Homo sapiens: one gene and its partner. The main gene of each other region encodes a partner of the protein of the gene in region 2 in a complex. Each region holds a gene or a part of one and is shown on either strand. Other genes may lie near its edges. A codon is read from its position in the direction of its gene.

What was found.
Region 1: the proteins of CASP2 (region 2) and YWHAG are in contact, whole or in part, in a crystal structure (PDB 6S9K), measured with the Homo sapiens proteins. Residues at the interface, in NP_116764.2 of Homo sapiens: Asp137 (codon at 7,936), Leu138 (codon at 7,933), Ser139 (codon at 7,930), Leu140 (codon at 7,927), Pro141 (codon at 7,924), Phe142 (codon at 7,921), Pro143 (codon at 7,918), Val144 (codon at 7,915), Cys145 (codon at 7,912), Glu146 (codon at 7,909), Leu150 (codon at 7,897), Lys152 (codon at 7,891), Lys153 (codon at 7,888), Leu154 (codon at 7,885), Ser157 (codon at 7,876); in NP_036611.2 of Homo sapiens: Glu15, Asn43 (codon at 3,329), Val47 (codon at 3,317), Arg57 (codon at 3,287), Arg61 (codon at 3,275), Lys125 (codon at 3,083), Arg132 (codon at 3,062), Tyr133 (codon at 3,059), Pro170 (codon at 2,948), Gly174 (codon at 2,936), Leu177 (codon at 2,927), Asn178 (codon at 2,924), Val181 (codon at 2,915), Glu185 (codon at 2,903), Glu213 (codon at 2,819), Asp214 (codon at 2,816), Lys217 (codon at 2,807), Asp218 (codon at 2,804), Leu221 (codon at 2,795), Ile222 (codon at 2,792), Leu225 (codon at 2,783), Asn229 (codon at 2,771), Leu232 (codon at 2,762), Trp233 (codon at 2,759).

The regions. Positions count from the first base shown.
Region 1 is NC_000007.14:76,326,866-76,336,082, forward strand, and holds part of YWHAG (14-3-3 protein gamma), read right to left. Parts: intron 3,369-9,217; coding exon 2,712-3,368; 3' UTR 1-2,711. UniProt on the Homo sapiens protein: Adapter protein implicated in the regulation of a large spectrum of both general and specialized signaling pathways. Binds to a large number of partners, usually by recognition of a phosphoserine or phosphothreonine motif.
Region 2 is NC_000007.14:143,291,351-143,300,567, reverse strand, and holds part of CASP2 (caspase-2 isoform 1 preproprotein), read right to left. Parts: intron 9,029-9,217; coding exon 8,878-9,028; intron 8,269-8,877; coding exon 8,101-8,268; intron 7,952-8,100; coding exon 7,870-7,951; intron 6,339-7,869; coding exon 6,244-6,338; intron 5,972-6,243; coding exon 5,795-5,971; intron 2,052-5,794; exon of another isoform or gene 1,756-2,051; intron 646-1,755; coding exon 517-645; intron 365-516; coding exon 274-364; intron 189-273; coding exon of another isoform or gene 128-188; intron 1-127. UniProt on the Homo sapiens protein: Is a regulator of the cascade of caspases responsible for apoptosis execution. Might function by either activating some proteins required for cell death or inactivating proteins necessary for cell survival.

The DNA of each region.
Region 1 (9,217 bases), about 67 Mb from region 2:
TCACTGAGGAAACTGCTAAAGATGGTCCGTGTGTGAAATAATTCCTTAGAGAAACACGGAGCTGGAAAAATAATCACTGATTAGACCTTAAAAATAGTTCACTGCATAACATGACAAAAAGCACAAAGGCTCATTCAGAGAACATATTTGTTGTTCTCCAACACTGTAATAGTTATAATTTCACCATGACAAACACCAGACATTAAGATTAAGCTAACACTGGTGTTTCTTTTGCTCCCCCCCTTTTAAAAACAAAATATATAACTGCATGTCACTATAGCAACATCCAAAACAGATCAATTTGTTACAATCACTATTTGGTAGAGCAAACTTTACCCCCAAAAGGAAAAATTAAATTAAAAAAAAAAAACCTTTAAAAAATTTGAAGACTTAATTTTTTTTGTCATAGGAATACATAACACCTACAGTATAAGTTAATCAATTTCAAGCTACTGTATAGAAATACAACACTAGCATGCACAATATTGTATCAATAGAGTAATGGAGGAGTAATCATTTCACTGGAGAGACAGTATCATAGGCAAGTGCATTTCTTTAAAAATAAAGAAAAGAAAAACCATTCAAGCTGCTTAAATATCAAGTCTCCCATTCCCTCTCCGTTTTCAGCCCTCAGGTGTGATTTTTATCTTGCATTATTCTAAAAAGCAGCCAGAGCCAAAGCTGAAATTTAAAGGAAAAATAGGTTTTGTAATTCCAGTAAATCATTTCCAAATGCTACAAGGAAAAACGCAACACTGCTCACTGGACATGAAGATAAATTAGGGAAAGCCCCACCTACCCTGCCCCCCCCCCCCTCCCCCCCCAAATCGTCTTCCTCCCATGGCAATGACTTTAGGCGCCTGTGAGAGGCACAAAAGCGGCAAAGCTTCTTCTACTAGTTCTTCTGGTAGGCTTCACTTAACTGGGACTTTTACTCTAGCGTGAGGAGGGGGCCTCCTAAGGAAAGTCATGCTGGGTAAACTGTGCGATGTTACAGAGCACATTGAGTCTGTGGTCATCGTGGTTCTTCTATCTTCACTGTCACCTGTATCCTGTTACACATACTCAGTTCCTAATTGTAAGCTCAATTTTGGTATTAGCAAAAGCATCTGTCAGTTTTTCCTCAATTACTCACACCTCTTCTTGCCTAAATAAAACAAAGAAACAAAGAAAACAAGTGTGGTGTCATTACACGTCTCGGGAGTTCCTCGTCACTGACTTTATATATATAAAAAAAAGAATGCACATGCGGGCCACGTTCACAGATAGACAGATTCACCCGAAATGAGAATGAGGGCCTTAAGGCTGCCGAAAACAAATGGGTGGAAATAGCAACGTTGTTTCCGTCAATTCCAAATGTGCACTGGCTGCGTGAGACAAGCCAATCTCCAATTCCTATGCTTTTTTCATTAAAAAGAAAAAACTATCTCGAGAGGAAAAAGTTCTGGTCAAATAGGAGTTCAGTGTTTGTTATCTGGTAACAGTTTTTTTATCTTCCTACAATTACTTGGGGAAGGAGTGTCTTCGGGGAGGAAAAACTGACACACTGACAAGGCTCCCGAAATTGGACAGAATGGTTAAGGATATAGCTCTTCCTTTTGGGTTTTTCTACCAGTAGGCTTCTAGCACCTGAATTTTCACACACTGCACCACAGACCTTCTCCAAACGCCTCTCCGACCCCACAGCTTCTGCACCCAGCTGCGTCCGCCAGCACGAGGCGCAGTAGGAAACGCCCCAGTGCAGAGTGGGTGACGGCAGTGTGATCCCTGAGGAGGGAGCTGCAGCAGCTTCAGAAGCGGGATGTTCTCTGAAAATACCAACACGATCCATGACATACAGACCTGAATTTTCTCTATTTTTGTGGCGTTTCACGTTTCTCTCAAGAGGATTAATAATTTTGGTGGTGGATTTACGTTAAGAGGAAAGAAGGACCAAAAAAAAAAAATCCCACAGCCACCTGACCTGAAGTCGCTTTCATTCTCATTTAGCCTAGGAGACCGATCAACAGCAAAACCAACCTGGATAAGGCTGAATAAGGATGTTAAAGCCCAAACAACTAGCAAAGGAAAAGTACACAATCGATGGCTTGATGTTACATATGGCTGTAATGTAGAAATACTGTAAACTGCAATTTAGTGTTAATACTGTCAACTAATCAGAGACTTCGGAAAACTGGCAAGGCCTAAACCATAAGGATGAATGAGACCTCAGGTTCTAAGTCTGTCAGTCTGGGATTTACACTGTTCCATGTCTGTAGGCTACACCCTGGAAAACATGCAGAGCCGAGACAGATGAGATAGAAAGTACCCAAAACGAGAGACGAGAGCGTATGTACATAAAAATCCTTACTGGAACCACAGAACTTACTGAATGAGGGCCATTCCTCTTTAAGTTTTCTTTTCATCTGAAAACCCTATTATCTAGCAATAAGTTAAATTAGAGACAGACAGCTCCACTTGCATGAATCTACAGAACAGTCCAGACGCCAGTGTGAGGCTGCTATTCCAATACCAGCACAGCTAGCCTGACTTTCCACTAGTGGTATTTTGGCAAAAATGTCAAAGAGGCGATCAAAGACAGGACAGGTCGTGGGTTTCTCCCTGGGAAGGTCATCCCTCCCTTTCCCTCCCCCACCCGACCCCCAACTCATGGGAAAAAAATAAAGACTGCAGTAGTAGCATCCGCGTGCGCTGCCAGTTCCCCTGGGGCCTTAATTGTTGCCTTCGCCGCCATCGTCGTCCTGCTGGTCGCTCGTCCAGAGCGTGAGGTTGTCGCGGAGGAGCTGCATGATGAGCGTGGAGTCCTTGTAGGAGTCCTCGTTGAGGGTGTCAAGCTCGGCGATGGCGTCGTCGAACGCGGTCTTGGCCAAGTGGCACGCTTGCTCTGGGGCGTTCTGGATCTCATAGTAGAAGACGGAGTAGTTAAGAGCCAGGCCTAATCGGATGGGGTGGGTGGGCTGCATGTGCTCTTTGCTGATCTCGTGGGCTTCGCTGTAGGCCTTCTCGGAGGACTCCACCACCGTCGCCCTTTTCTCTCCGGTGGCCACTTCAGCCAGGTAGCGGTAGTAGTCCCCTTTCATCTTCAGGTAGAACACTTTGCTCTCGTACTGGGTCTCGCTGCAATTCTTGATCAGGTAGTTATCCAGCAGGCTCAGCACATCCTGGCACACAGCCTCCAACTCCTTCTCTATCTTCTCCCGGTACGCACGGACCATCTCAATCTTCTTCTCATTGCCGTCTGCAGATGTCTTCTGCTCAATGCTACTGATGACCCTCCAGGAAGAGCGGCGTGCCCCCACAACGTTCTTGTAGGCCACAGACAGAAGGTTTCGTTCCTCATTCGACAGTGGCTCATTCAGCTCTGTCACCTGCCAGGAGGAAAGAACAGAGTTGTTATGGTACAGATGGTGTCCACTGGGTTAACTGTATCTTTGAGACACTAGAACAGAGCTCTGTTGAGTAACATGATGAACAGAAGGAAATTACTTTGTGTGGGCTGGGGGAAGGGGGCTGGAGGTGGAGCACACACAAGGGAGGGAAAAGTGCGGCTGGATCAATGGATCAACGGTGTCTGAACCCTGGCTTCCTCCCCAGAAAAGGACACAGGCTTATCACGTGTGTTCCACAAAACACTGTCAAGTCTAGGCCTTAGATGAGAGACTATGAGTACAGATGGTCTAACTCAGTGGTTTTTTAGGAAAACGGACTGACAAATTCCTCCTAATCCTGCCCTGTCTACTAAACTTCAGTCCCATCTCTTCTGGATAAGAAAATACTGAGTCAACTTCAAGCTGACTTCTGAGAAACATGGAGGCCTTTCTGCTCATATGCCAACACCATGTGAATTCTAAACCTCAGGGAGTCCAAATAAGGGGCATAGGATTGAGTCTGATCGCTGTGATACTTTAGCAACCCAGGGAACATGTTATTTGTGGCAGTGGGAGTGTCTGACTGAATACAACTTTACAACCAGCAATACAAAAGAACGAGGCGAGCACAGCGCCTCTAGCTGGGCAACAGGAATCAATGCTTCTCCCAAGATGGCCATTTCTCAAGGCTCCCGCCCTCATCACCCCCAAGGCTAATCACTTTCAGAAGACTAAAGTGGCATCTCAAACCAATGTTGTATATTTTTATGACTACAAATAACTGCTTATTAATATCAGCCAATAATACTAAATTTATTTACCTGGTTTCTATAGTATCAGAGTCATATACTATTACATTACTTGACAACCATATGAAATACATTATTATTATTATTATATTTGACACAGGGTCTCATTCTATTGCCCAGCCTGGAGTGCAGCAGCAGGATCACAGATCACTGCAGCCTCAACCTCCCCAGGCTCAGATGATTCTCCCACCTCTGCCTACCGAGGAGCTGGGACTACCAGCACATGCCAACTGGCTGGGGATGGGGAGAGGAGAGGAGAGGAGAGAAGAAAAGTGGTTACTCCCTGTCCCTTGAGTCCCCATTGTTCCGTGTTGATCAACTGCAGCATCTGTATAACATTATATTACATACAGAGACGACAGGTAGGGACCTAGAATCCAAAAAGATCTACTAAACCAAGCTTATCCAACCTGTGGCCCACAGGCTGCATGTAGCCCAGGATGGCTTTGAATGCAGCCCAACACAAATTCGTAAACTCTATTAAAACACTGAGAATTCTTTTTGCGATTTTTTTTTTTTTTTTAGCTCATCAACTATTGTTAGTGTTAGTGTATTTTATGTGTGGCCCAAGGGAATGTGGCCCAGGGAAGCCAAAAGACTGGACACCCCTGTACTAAACTCCTGGGGCATGGGGGAACTGAACTACCAGGAGACTTTTTTTTCTATGTTTGAATCATTATGTTCAGTATGTTGGCCCATGCCTGTAATCCCAGTGCTTTGAGACACCAGGTGGGGAGGACTGCTTGAGGCCAGGAGTTCAAGACCAGCCTGGCCAACATAACAAGGCCCCATCTCAAAAAAAAAAAAATTTTTTTTCTTAAATTATAAACGGGGGGTATGCTTGGCAAAAGTGATTACAGTCATTACTTCAAGCAGCATCTACTCAGAGATAATTAAATCAAAACATAAACCAAATCATGCTTATTAGTTTATGGCAGGCAATTCATTTTCTGAATGAATGATCAGCAAGTGCTACACGCTCAAATATTCTCTAAACTGATTAGTGGTGTTGTTAAAGTTAACATTTTCCTAGACATTACTGATGCTCTGTTTTAATGCTGGACAACGTTACTCCTACCAGCCGTGCCCTCAGTGAAACAGACTCAAAAGAGGGGAAGAATAGGGGGTGGGTACTACTTGAGTTCAGAGCAGAAGGAAACCAGGAAAGAGATGCTTTGCTCCACCACCTCTTGTTCCCGGCACTTCTGCAAACACTCCTCCTGCATGAATAAACACAGGCACCTCGTGTCTCATTCTGCACTGACGATCTGTCATCCAGCAGACCGCTGTCACTCATGCTGAATTCTGATGTGTCCACAAATAACGGAAGATTGGGCTTTTCCCAGCTCCATCATTCGCTAAGCAATCTTGGGGACAAGCCGCTTCATTTCTCTGGGCTTTGGTTTTCTTATCTGCAAAATGGGGATTTCTGCTTCTTTCATAAGGTAATATACAGGTATATCAGACAAATAAGAAAGTCTTTTTTTGTTCTTTTTGAGACATGGTCTTACTCTGTTTCCCAAGCTGAAGTGCAGAGGCATGATCACACCTCACTGCAGCCTCAAACTACTGGGCTCAAGCAATCCTCCCACCTCAATCTCCAGAGTACCTGGGACTACAGGTGTGCACCACCATGCATGGCTGATTTCTTTTTTTTTTTTTTTTGGAGACAGAGTTTCAAAAAGACCTGGTCTCACTCTGTTGCCCAGGCTGGAGTGCAATGGCATGATGTCGGCTCACTGCAACCTCCCCCCAAGTTCAAGCGATTCTCCTGCCTCAGCCTCCCGAGTAGCTGGGATTACAGGCGTGTGCCACCATGCCTGGCTAGTTTTTGTATTTTTAGTAGAGACAGCGTTTTGCCATGTTGGCCAGGATGGTCTCAAACTCCTGGCCTCAAGTGATCCACCCGCCTCAGTCTATGGCTGATTTATTTATTTCTTTATTTAGAGATGGGGTCTCACTATATCAATCCGCTGGAAGTGCAGTGGCACTATCTTGGCTCACTGCAACCTCAGCCTCCCAGGGCTTCAAGCAATCCTACCTTAGCCTCCTGAGTGGCTGGGACTAAGGCACATGCCACCACACCCAGCTAATTTTTGTATTTTTCTGTAGAGACAAGGTCTTGCCATGTTGCCCAGGCTGGCCTTGAACTCCTGGCCTCAAGTGATCCACCCACCTTAGCCTCCCAAAGTGTTAGGATTACAGGTGTGAGCCACTGCATCCAGCCATTTAAAAATTTTTAGTAGAGACAAGGTCTCACTATGTTGCCCAGGCTGGTCTTGAACCCTTAGTTCAAGTGATCCTCCCACCTTGGCCGCTCAGAGTGCTGGGATTACAGGTGACAGCCATTGTGCCCAGCAAAGTCTTCTTGAAAAAGTAAAATGCTACAGAAACATGAGGAACTACTTTTAAGAATACCCTGAATAATTTTCCTTCATTTTAGTTCTCACCACAGGGGATGTCTACATTTCCTAACGATCTCCCAGCTCATCTTCCTGTATCGAGTGTCTCTTCTCCGTTTCATCCTCTTCTCTATATTAAGCGGAAACTGCCTTAGCTGCCTCACATCGCTTCCTTTCCATAAACCCTAGTTCCATACAGCCTGAAAAAAAACTGCCCAGACTTGGCTTTGGAAGGAGCTGAGCCCTTGGGCGCTGCTGCCACCCATCTCTGGCATACTTTACTGAGTGTGCGAATGCTGAAGACAAACCGCCCCGCGGTGCAGCCCTCATGACTGCCTCCAGTGCAAGGAGAGGCCAGCGTGCCGAAGGCCACAAAGATCAAGTTCTGGCCTTTCCCCTAAATCATGTTGTCCTTATTTCAAGGGCCAGGAGCTATTTAAAGCTCAAATTATCTCACCAGTCCTGGGGGCACTCCTCCTGCCACAAATGAAGTCTCCCAGCAGTGCCCAGAGAGGCAATCTGTACTTATGTAAAGTCTGCCTAGCTGTCCCCAGACACATTGGAACAAGGAGATTATGAAATGCCAGGATCACCTTTGGATACAGTAGCTCGACCACATTTGGAACACGCCCAGATGTTCCCTGCCAGTGAAAAACTAAGTTAGAGGGGAAACCCTTCAGCTCTAAAAAGTCTAAAGAAAAGTTGTTCTGAACACCTTAAATCAAAATTTTTAAAAATCCTTTATCCTTTAGATCATAATTACTTGCATAAGAATCTGTTATTTTTAAATTAAAATAAGAGATCCCCACCATATTAGTTTTAAAGGTCAACAGATAACCTCTTAAAAGAACAAGTTATTCTAATAGTGTCTAAAATGATTTAATCAAGACAGAATGACAGAATGACTATTCAATGTGGGAAGATACGGGATCTTGTATCATTTGGGAAGGGAGGTAACATTTTTCAAAACAGTCATTAAATTTGTTGTTGTTGTTTAAACAGAGACAGGGTCTCACTCTGTTGCCCTGGCTGGAGTACAGTGGTGCAATCACAGCTCACTGCAGCCACGCCACAAACTCCTCTGCCTCAGCCTCCAGAGAAGCTGGGACTACAGGCATCTACCACCACGCCCCCTAATTTTTGTATTTTTTGTAGGGACCAGGGTCACCCTATGTTGTCCAGGCTGGTTTCGAACTCCTGAGCACAAGTGATCCTCCAGCCTTGGCCTCCTAAAGTTCTGGGATTACAAACATGAGCCATTCTGCCTAACCTTCTTCTTCTTTAAAAAAAAAAAGAAAGAAAGAAAGAAAAGAAAAGAAATGGGGTCTCACTCTGTTGCCCAGGCTGGAGAGAAATGGCGTGATCACAGCTCACTGCAGCCTCAACTTCTCAGGCTCAGGTGATCCTCCCACCTCAGCCTCCCATCACACCCTGGTTAATAAATTGTTTCTACGAATGCAACACTTGTAAACATGGTCCCCAAAATTTACTGTCATGGCTGTTGGAAAATGTAGAAAGTTTCAGTTTTTATTCCCCAGAGTTGTATGTTCTGCTTAAAAACAAAGTTTCTGCCTTCTCTACTACTACAAGCTCAAGTTCAAATTTCTTATTTTTATTTTATTTATTTTTTTTGAGATGGAGTCCCACTCTGTCACCAGGCTGGAGTGCAGTGGCACAATCCCGGCTCACTGCAACCTCTGCCTCCTGGGTTCAAGCGATTCTCCTGCCTCAGCCTCCCGAGTACCTGGGATTACAGGCGTGTGCCACTACGCCCAGCTAATTTTTGTACTTTTAATAGAGACGGGGTTTCATCATGTTGGCCAGGATGGTCTTGATCTCCTGACCTTGTGATCCGCCCGCCTCGGCCTCCCAAAGTGCTGGGATTACAGGCGTGAGCCACCGCGCCCGGCCTCAAATTTCTTTTGGTGACTTAAAAGATGTTAAAGATAGCTGTAGGTAAAATGGTTAGAAAAATCTATGTTATTCTCACCAACAGTTTAAAAAGTAGAACTCCCCAAATCCCAGCTGCTAAGGAATCAGATGTTAATTAGTGTCAACTATTTTCCCCTAAGAGTTGATGAGGAGAGAAACCTTTTCTACCTAAGATTAGCAACTCTTGAAATTCTTGGAAAGCTACTTAGATGACTTTCTGACCTTAAGCCATGGAGTACCAGGTCATTCACAATTTCCTTATCTACCAAGAACCTTACATTGTAATGGTAGGGACCAGACACAGCCGCTCACCTCTGTAATCCCAGCACTTTGGGAGGCCAAGGTGGGTGGATCACTTGAGGTCAGTAGTTTGAGACCAGCCTGGCCAACATGGCGAAACCCTGTCTCTACTAAAAATACAAAAATGAGCTGGGTGTGGTGTGCATGCCTGTAATCCCAGCTACTCAGGAGGCTGAGGCAGGGGAATCACCTGAACCTGAGAGGTGGAGGTTACAGTGAGACGAGATGGAGCCACTGCACTCCAGCCTGGGCAACAGAGCGATCTGTCCGCACCCCCACCACACCCCCCAAAAAAAAGTTATGAATGCAACTTTGCATTTTTAATCTTCTTAAATAACTCCTCGGGGCTCAAGCAATCAATCCTCCTGCCTCAACCTGGAACTACAGGCATGCACCACCTCACCCA
Region 2 (9,217 bases):
AAAGGAAGGCAAAGACACGGGATAAGAGACCTGAAAACAGGATATGGTGGTGCACGGAGAGCTGACCAGCCTGAGAGCCATGGGCTGCCCAAGTCCCAGCACACCCCATGCATTGGGAGACACTTACAGAGCAAGAGAGGCGGTGGCAGCAGTGAACAGAAGGAGGTGCCCAAGGGATCCAATAGCACCTGAGAGGAGCAAACAGGAAAGTGAGAGCTGGTGGGAGGCTGCCCAGGAGCCACCACCCAGGTGCTGGTCTGCTAGGGCACTCACCTCCACGGCAGGCCTGGATGAAGAACATTTTTGGTTTGTTCTGTAGGCTTGGGCAGTTGGCGTTGTCAAAGAGCTGAAAAACCTCTTGGAGCTGCCAGAAAGAAAGAAGGAAGAAGAGAGGTTAAGCATTCAGCGGGGCCTCCTAAGTCCTACACATGCAACAGTAGCCATCACTTGACAGACAGCAGGCAGGAGGTAAAGCAGCCTGGTTTCAACAGTTGGCTTCCACCAGGGTATCCGCACCTGGAGCAGTTTCCCATCCACACCATAGATGGCGCCCTCCACACCATGCGAGAGGAGTGCCACGATGCAGGAGTCCGTGACTCGGTGTGCAGGTAACTGTGCAAAATTCTGCAGTTTCTCTTGCATTTCCTAAAAGAAAGGAATGTTTAGTGTTGTGCACTAAGGTCAGCACCAACATAAGCATCAAAGTTTGGTTTCTTTTTGAAACCCTAAGCTATTAGAAGATAAAACGCTTTATGTATATTCCTGTGGTCAATGATAAAAGAAGAGACCTTTTGAGAGACTAAAGAAAGCTATGGACTCACCAGAAAAATGCATATGAGTTCAGACACAATATTCTGAATACAGATTCAGACTCACTGAGATAGGCAAACAGCTCCTGGATTAAAGCAAGTTACTAAAGAAGCTAATCATGAGCTGGTCAACTCTGATTAATTCCCTGTTCATAACCAGATCCTTCATTAGAGCAACTGCCCTTGTATATAAATGGCACAAGGGTGACTCAAAGTGTAGCTATGAATAAGTAACATGCACATTCAGCTACACGAAAATAAACTGTTCTGTGACAGCATCATGATAGTAGAGAATAGCAATACTTGTATGTTGTCTTCTAAGATTCTAAGTGTCCAAGAGATAATGATGATGACTGTATAAAATGCTTTGTTTCAGAAAGAGCACGCTATGAAGGAGGATTCTGTACAGGGCAGTAATTACATACACAGGTCCTGGGTTCAGATTAATCTAGGTTTGAACCTTGGCTTCATGAGTTGGAACAGCTTACTCAGACCCTTGAGACCTCACTTTTCACTTTATAAAAAAAAATTATGAGGATATTTTCTCTAAGTTTGTGAAGATAAAAATGAGATATTATGACAAAGGACTTGGCCTGGACAACCTAGCAAGACTCCATCTTTAAAAAAAAAAATTAGCCAGGCATGGTGGTGCATGCTTATAGTCCCAGCTACTCTAAAGGCTACGGTGGAGGGATCACTGGAGCCTAGGAAGTTGAGGCTGCAGTGAGCTGTGACTGCACCACTGCACTGTAGCCTGGGTGACAGAGAGAGACCCTGTCTCAAAAAAAAAACCAAAAACCGATCACTGTGTCTGGGACACATTGCAAAAAATGTGCCATTACAATGTGCATGTCGAATAAAGAGTATTTTTCTCAAAGAAATCTATTACTGGTCAATGTTGTAGTCCAACTTAAGAACTGTTTTCCTGTTTATCTTTTTTTTTTTTAGACAGGATCTTGCTATATTGCCCAGGCTTGAGTGCAGTGACTATTTACAGGTGTAAGATCACTACTGATCAGCACAGGAGTTTTCACCTGCTCCATTTCTGACCTGGGCTGGTACACCCCTCCTTAGGCAACCTGGTGGTCCGCCACTCCCAGGAGGTTACCATATTGATGATGAACTTAGTTTGGACACCTGATCAGCATAGCACACTACAGCCTAGAACTCCTGGGCTCAAGGAATCTTCTTGCCTCAGCCTCTAGAGTAGCTGGGACCATAGGCATGTGCCACCATGCCTGGAGAATCTTGTTTATCTTGCACTAAGTTGCGATACATGAAGAGCACTACCTTAAGCATTTGGTCCATCCATCAGAAGGTTATACTGTGTACCTAAAGAGCATAATAATTGGGCACACATGTTTAAACCTATGCCTCCCTCTATAATTCACGATGTCTGGGTCTTCTGAGATGGGCAGAAAGAAAACAAGTTCATTTTATTATAAACTTGAATAAAATGTAATGAAAATAAGTAAGTTATCTGGGTGGAAGAGTTAAAACACACATATATTTAATCACACACACTGCCAAAATAAAAAGCACACTTCTATAATATAACATATTGCAGTAGTTCTCAGAGTGGCCCCTAAAGCAGCAACAGCAGCATCACCCAGGAACTTGGAAGAAACGTGAAATCTTGGGCTCCAGCAAAATGTGTTTTAACAAGCCCTCCAGGACACTGTGATATGTTAAAGTTTGAGAGCTACTAATTGATCTGTTCGGAATACTTCTGTTTGTAGATAATTGAGATGCAATTACATAAAATATTTGAAAGTCTGCAATATAACTAGAAATAAAGAGACTGGTGTTGTTGAAAAGTATCTGTATTTTCTAAGTAGAAGCAAACCATAATAATAGAAATCTTAAGGTAATGACAGATAATCAAAAAATTCTTTCAAGAATATATAATTTCAAGAGAATACATAACTGTGAATGTTCCTCTGGAGCTGATGCTAATAGAATTTAACATTTAATAGTTAAAGAAGTTAATTTTGCTCAAAGAAGAAAACAAAGGCCGGGCGCGGTGGCTCACGCCTGTAATCCCAGCACTTCGGGAGGCCGAGGCGGGTGGATCACCTGAGGTCAGGAGTTTGAGACCAGCCTGACCAATGTGATGAAACCCTGTCTCTACTAAAAATACAAAAATTAGCCGGGCGTGGTGGCATGCGCCTGTAATCCCAGCTACTCAGGAGGCTGAGACAGGAGAATTGCTTGAACCTGGGAGGCAGAGGTTGCAATGAGCCCAGATCGCGCCATTGCACTCTAGCCTGGGCAACAAAAGTGAAACTCCATCTCAAAATAAAAAAAAAGAAAACAAAAATTATATACCTGGGCACCGAATCACGAGCATTTTGAATTTAGTGAGATTAGGTCAGTAAATAGAAAACAATGTCCAAAAAAAGAATACACGCACTTTGTAACCAAACTTAGTAAGACTAAACCATTCAATAAATGGGGATTAGACATTTGGAGGAATTTTTCTACAAGTAGCATAGCTTAAAATAGGATCTGCAGATTTGTTTTTGATAAAATTACAGTACTTCTATAAATAGCAGGGTTCTTAACTCCTAAGTGTATTTTTGGCTAGGGGTTGGGGGACATGTGAAGAGAGTAACTTGTGAACCCTCTGAAATTATATGCTAAATTATATGGGCAGCTGCATTTTCCAGGGATAACCCATAGCTTGTCCTTACATTTTCAAAGCAGTTTGTGACCCAAATGCAAGCTAAAAAAACAATACCACATGGTAAAAGGAAATTTCCACTTTGAAGAGTACGTTTCCTAACATAGGGTAAATCATAATTCTAGAACTAGTAACCTCATGAAGTAGATGCAATAAAAACTTAATAACAAAGAGAAAAGTGAAAACATCTGGGCAGTGAGAATACCCATGTTCACTGCAGCACTATCAGGGGAAGAGGAGTCTCTAAGACTAATTATACTATTTCCTGTTTTTAAATGGAATTCCTCTCTTAAGTAAGAAAGATTTGATAGGGAAAGAAAAAAGGATCTTTTTTTTTTTTTTGGTTCTGTTTCTTTGCTTGCCAAATAGCTATATGATAAACGAGTTGACTCTCTAGGGAGATCCCACCAGGAAGAGAGCATTCTGTGCAGATGCCCAGTGTACCAAATTATGACACCCATTGCAACTACCTGGTTTATAACACACACATTTCTTGTCCACATACTGTTCTCCCTGCCTAGGGTGGCTTCACCACTCCTCTCTGCTTCAGTAACTTCTATCCTTCAAGGCCAGCTTAAGTTCTGCCTCCTCCACTTATCCTTCTGATCATATCTACCTAGGCGCTTCTTCTTCTTAGCTATGACAGAAGATTTTTTCTCTAATCTTGTTTGGTCGTTAGGAATATAAGAGGACACACTTCCTTTTATGCTGATGTCAAAACTCCCTCATCTGATCTTTAAAATCTGTGGCAGCTCACATAGTCCCCCATTATAAGGTGCTTGAAGTTCAACTCTACTGCAATTCCAGTTACAGAGCAATTCAACCAAAGAATTAGAATCCAATAGGTCACTGAATATGCATCAGGCTTACCATAAATGGAAATGCTATTTATGAAGTGAGCTCATAAACTCACCAAATCTGACAGTCTCTGAGAAAACAGCAGTATATATAGTTGACTTAGTGACTCAGTATTTTATCTTTAACTATTAGACATGTAAGATCCTTTATCAGCTGCATACAACTTGAAAAACCATGACATAATAGATTTCTAGTAAAAGACATGGCTAGACCAAAACCTCTAAGAAAACACACACACTGCACATTTTGTTAAGTGACCTTCTGTAGGAATTATGGCTGGTACCCTGCCCTTTGCCCCTTTATGCCCAGCAGACTTCTCAGGAAAGCATATAAACTACCTGAATACTTGATGACTGAAGCAGCTGTTGCTGCCATGGCTTTGAAGCAAGGGTGGATTTAACTACATTGCATATGCTACAAGGGGGAAGCTGGCAAAAATAGCATGTAAAGGACAACACCCAGGTACCTGTGGATGAAACTGGCCTTGCCAAAAATATAGTAAATACATAATTACTCTCACAGAAGGAGGGCAGCTAAGAAAGAGAAATGAAGACTACAGACAATGCTGAATGGAAAACAAAGATCCTCTATCCCAACAGATCAAAGTGAATCTCCTAGCAATTTTAATTTCACCACTGACAACCTCAAAGCAAGTTGAAGAAAGTTCTACTATTCTGGAATCAAAATAAAGAGTGAATATGAATCTACAAATAGGCCATTATTGATTGCAAAATAGAAACCCTAAAGGTCACAAAGTCAGTTGTGCAGTACAGTAACTGAGGTTAATGACGAACAGCCCATAATGAAAATGTTTACAATTTCTAGAAATCTGGTCCACAAACAATCTACCCTATGACTTGTGATTACACAAATGTTAAGAATACTTTCCCAGCCAGGTGCCGTAGCTCATGCCTATAATCCCAGCACTTTGGGAGGCCGAGGGGGACGGATCACCTGAGGTCAGGAGTTTGAGACCAGCCTGGCCAACATGGCAAAACCCCGTCTCTACTAAAAATACAACAATAAGCCAGGTATGGTTGCATGCGCCTGCAGTTCCAGCTACTCAGGAAGCTGAGGCAGGAGAATCGCTTGAACCTGGTAGGCAGAGGTTGCAGTGAGCCGAGATCGTGCCATTGCACTCCAGCCTGGGTGACAGAGCTAAACTCTGTCTTTAAAAAAAAAAAAAAAAGTGAGACACCAACTGTGGACTATTATTACTTTATGAAACCACAACCTGAGATGTCAACACTAAAATGGCTGGCCGGCCCTAATTCTTTCTTACTAGAATGCAAGGTGAGAGGCAGAACAGAGTGAGTAAAAATGTAAGTAGAATAAACCAACTTTTAAGACATATCCCAGCAGGCACAGGAACAAACGATGTCTCTGGTCCCAAAGTGTTGTTCAGTCCTCTAATTTACATGTCAATTTTTCCCACCTCAGGTACCTGTGCAGTCTGGTCACATAGAACATGGACGTCATAGCCCAAAAGCTTGAAGAGGGTGACTAGAGTACTGTGGTCCACATCCCCTCCAGAGCGAAATTCCAGTTCTTTCTCTCCAGTGAAGTGCACATTGCTCAACACCAGTGCTAGGCCACGAGGCCGAGACTGCAACCTATATGCCTGTGGAGGAGAGGCCAGTTAGACCATGAGCGTCTTGATAACAGATGATTCCTCGGCTAGATTAGACATTTCAAGAAAACAAAGACATCGTATTTTTCTTCTTAACCTCCAGCAGGTAAAAATAGACAAATGCTCACAGAAGGCATTTAACCAGTAACAACTTTCTGACTAATAAGGCAGAAAGGAAATGTACATGCAAACTAAGTTCAGGTTCCCAGGAAGGGTGTCTAATTTCCCAACTCTCTTCCTCTTGTCATTATGCAAAAACTCACCAGCTGGAAGTGTGTTTGATAAAATTCAGGAGTGCAAGGCTTCACCTGAAGGCAGACAGGACCATCTTTATTGTCTAGGGAGTGTTCCACAGTATCTGTGGTATAGACAGAAAACCAAAAAACTAGTATATAACTTAACCATCAATCTTAATATGTCATTGTAACTTCAGACATCTCTTGCAACTGGGTTGTGATAAATATTGGTCTCACTCACTACCCAAACCTGTAAGCTTCATGAGGGCAGAGACTCTTAGTTTTAGCTCACTAAAGGATTCTCTGCACATAGCCTGCATGAAGCATATGCTCAACTGGCTGAATGACCGAATGGGCTAGCTGATAAAAGCCTCGTTCCAATCACTAGGATGCTCCATCAGCAGGCTGGTGGCCCCAAATGTAGTCTTTTCTTATTCAGCTTTTTAGAGGCCAATTGAGCATGAACTTCCTGCCCATACATGCTACTCAAAGGCCCAATTATCACAAAAACTGTTATCTGGGGTGGAAGGGAAATGGACCAACTATTAATAACACCTTGCCTGGGCCGGGCGCAGTGACTCATGCCTGTAATCCCAACACTTTGGGAGGCCGAGGCAGGCAGATCACGAGGTCAGGAGATGGTGAAACCCCATCTCTTACTAAAAACACAAAAAATTAGCTGGGTATGGTGGCACGCACCTGTAATCCTAGCTACTCAGGAGGCTGAGGCAGGAGAATCACTTGAACCCAGGAGGCAGAGTTTGCAGTGAGCCGAGACTGCACCATTGCACTACAGCCTGGACGACAGAGCAAGACTCCATCACAAGAAAAAAAAAAAACAAAAAACCACAAACTCCTGCATAAACTGTCCTACTAGCCCTTAACAAATTTACTGACAACTGTTCCCAATATAAACTATGTCTCAGCTGGGCATGGTGGCTTACGCCTATAATCCCAGCACTTTGGGAGGCCAAGGCGGAAGGATCATTTGAGGCCAGAAGTTTGACACCAGCCTGGGTAACAAAGTGAGACTCCTTCTCTACAAAAAATTTAAAAATGAGCTAGGTGTGGTGGCATGCACCTGTAATCCCAGGTACTTGGGAGGCTGAGGCAGGAGGAGCCCTTCAACCCAGGAGTTCAACGCTGCAGTGAGCTATGGTGGTGTCACTGCATTCCAGCCTGGGTGACAGAACAAGACCCTATTTCTGAAAAAAAACACAACAAAAAAAAAAAAAAACAAAAAAAAGGGCTCATGTTAGGACAAAGCCAGATACCAGACAAGAAAGGGGAAGTCAATCTGGGACACCCCCCTCCTTTTTATTTTATTTTATTTTATTTTTTGAGACTGAGTCTCACTCTGTTGGCAAGGCTGGAGTGCGGTGGCACCGTGTTGGCTCACTGCAACCTCCGTCTCCTGGGTTCTAGCAATTCTCCTGCCCCAGCTTCCCGAGTAGCTGGGATTACAGGCACCCACCACCATGCCCAGCTAGTTTTTATATTTTTAGTAGAGACGGGGTTTCACCATGTTGGCCAGGCTGGTCTCGAACTCCTGACCTCAGGTGATCCACCCGCCTTGGCCCCGCAAAGTGCTGGGATTATAGGCGTAAGCCGTGGCACCTGGCCTGGGACCCCTTTTAGTCCATCAATTCTCACCTGTCGACAGGCGGAGCTTCTTGTAAAGGGGACAGGACTCACACACCGGAAAAGGGAGACTCAAGTCGTAGTCACAGCTCAACTGTAAGAAATCAAAACTCATGATGACAGACCTTAGGGAAGTGGTCCGGTCCAAATACAACAAAATCTAGTCTCCCTCACTCTGACTTACAAATTCCTTTCCAGTCAAACTAACCCTTCCCAACACCCCATATTACTAAAGCTTCATACCGGTGGGAGTACATGCTGAAGCCCAGAAAGGGTGGTGAGCAACATATCCTCCAGGTGGCCTTGCTTGGTCTCCCTCAGTGCTTCACAGAAGGCATCAAAAGCTTGGGGACCCCTCTTAGGCAGCAAGTTGAGGAGTTCCACATTCTGGCTGAAACTGCCCACTTTGGCCTAAGACACAAGAATAAAACATGAAATCATATTTACTTCTCTAGCTATAATTCTATTTCTCCACATGAGCTTCCTAGTAGTGTCCTCATCCAAGAATTCTTTTTACAGGAAAAGTGTATGTATGGGTGAAGTCCTTTCTGTTATTCTTGAGTTATATATCATTTCTCTCAAATGCTCTACGGTAGAAGGGCATTTCCATTTCTTTAGAAAGGTACAACATCCAGCTGGGTGTGGTGGCTCACACCTGTAATCCCAGCACTTTGGGAGGCCGAGGCAGGTGGATCATGAGGTCAGGAGATCGACACCCTCCTGGCTAACACAGTGAAACCCTGTCTCTACTAAAAATCCAAAAAATTAGCCAGGCATGGTGGCACCTGCCTGTAGTCCCAGCTACTTGGGAGGCTGAGGCAGGAGAATCACTTGAACCTGGGAGGCAGAGGCTGCAGTGAGCCAAGATCGCGCCATTGTACTCCAGCCTGGGAGACAGAGACTCTGTCTCAAAAAAAAAAAAAAAAAAAAGGAAGAAAGATACGACACCCTTTCCATATTTTGTCATGCTCTATTCCCACCCCATGATCAATTTATCTTCTCTCTTTTGCCTCCAGATACCTGGATGAGCTCCCTCATTTCCAAGGTGATGATGTCCTTCTCCAGAAGATGTTCTAACAATTCGCTCAACAACAGCTGTTTGGCTAGCACCACTCGGTTCTTTTTTAGAGTTTCCTGATGATGAGGATGCATGCCACACACTCCCAATATCCTACAGATAAACGGTAGAAGGAAAGGCTGTCAAGTCACAATTTGACACAGAAGAGTGGAGTGGAAGAGGCATGAATAGGAAGAACAAAAAGAATAAGACTTACAATAACCAAGATTATGCATATTTCTTAAATCTGGTTAAAGCAAAGATGTACTAAGCAGGAACACATTGATCATAAGAAAATAATGT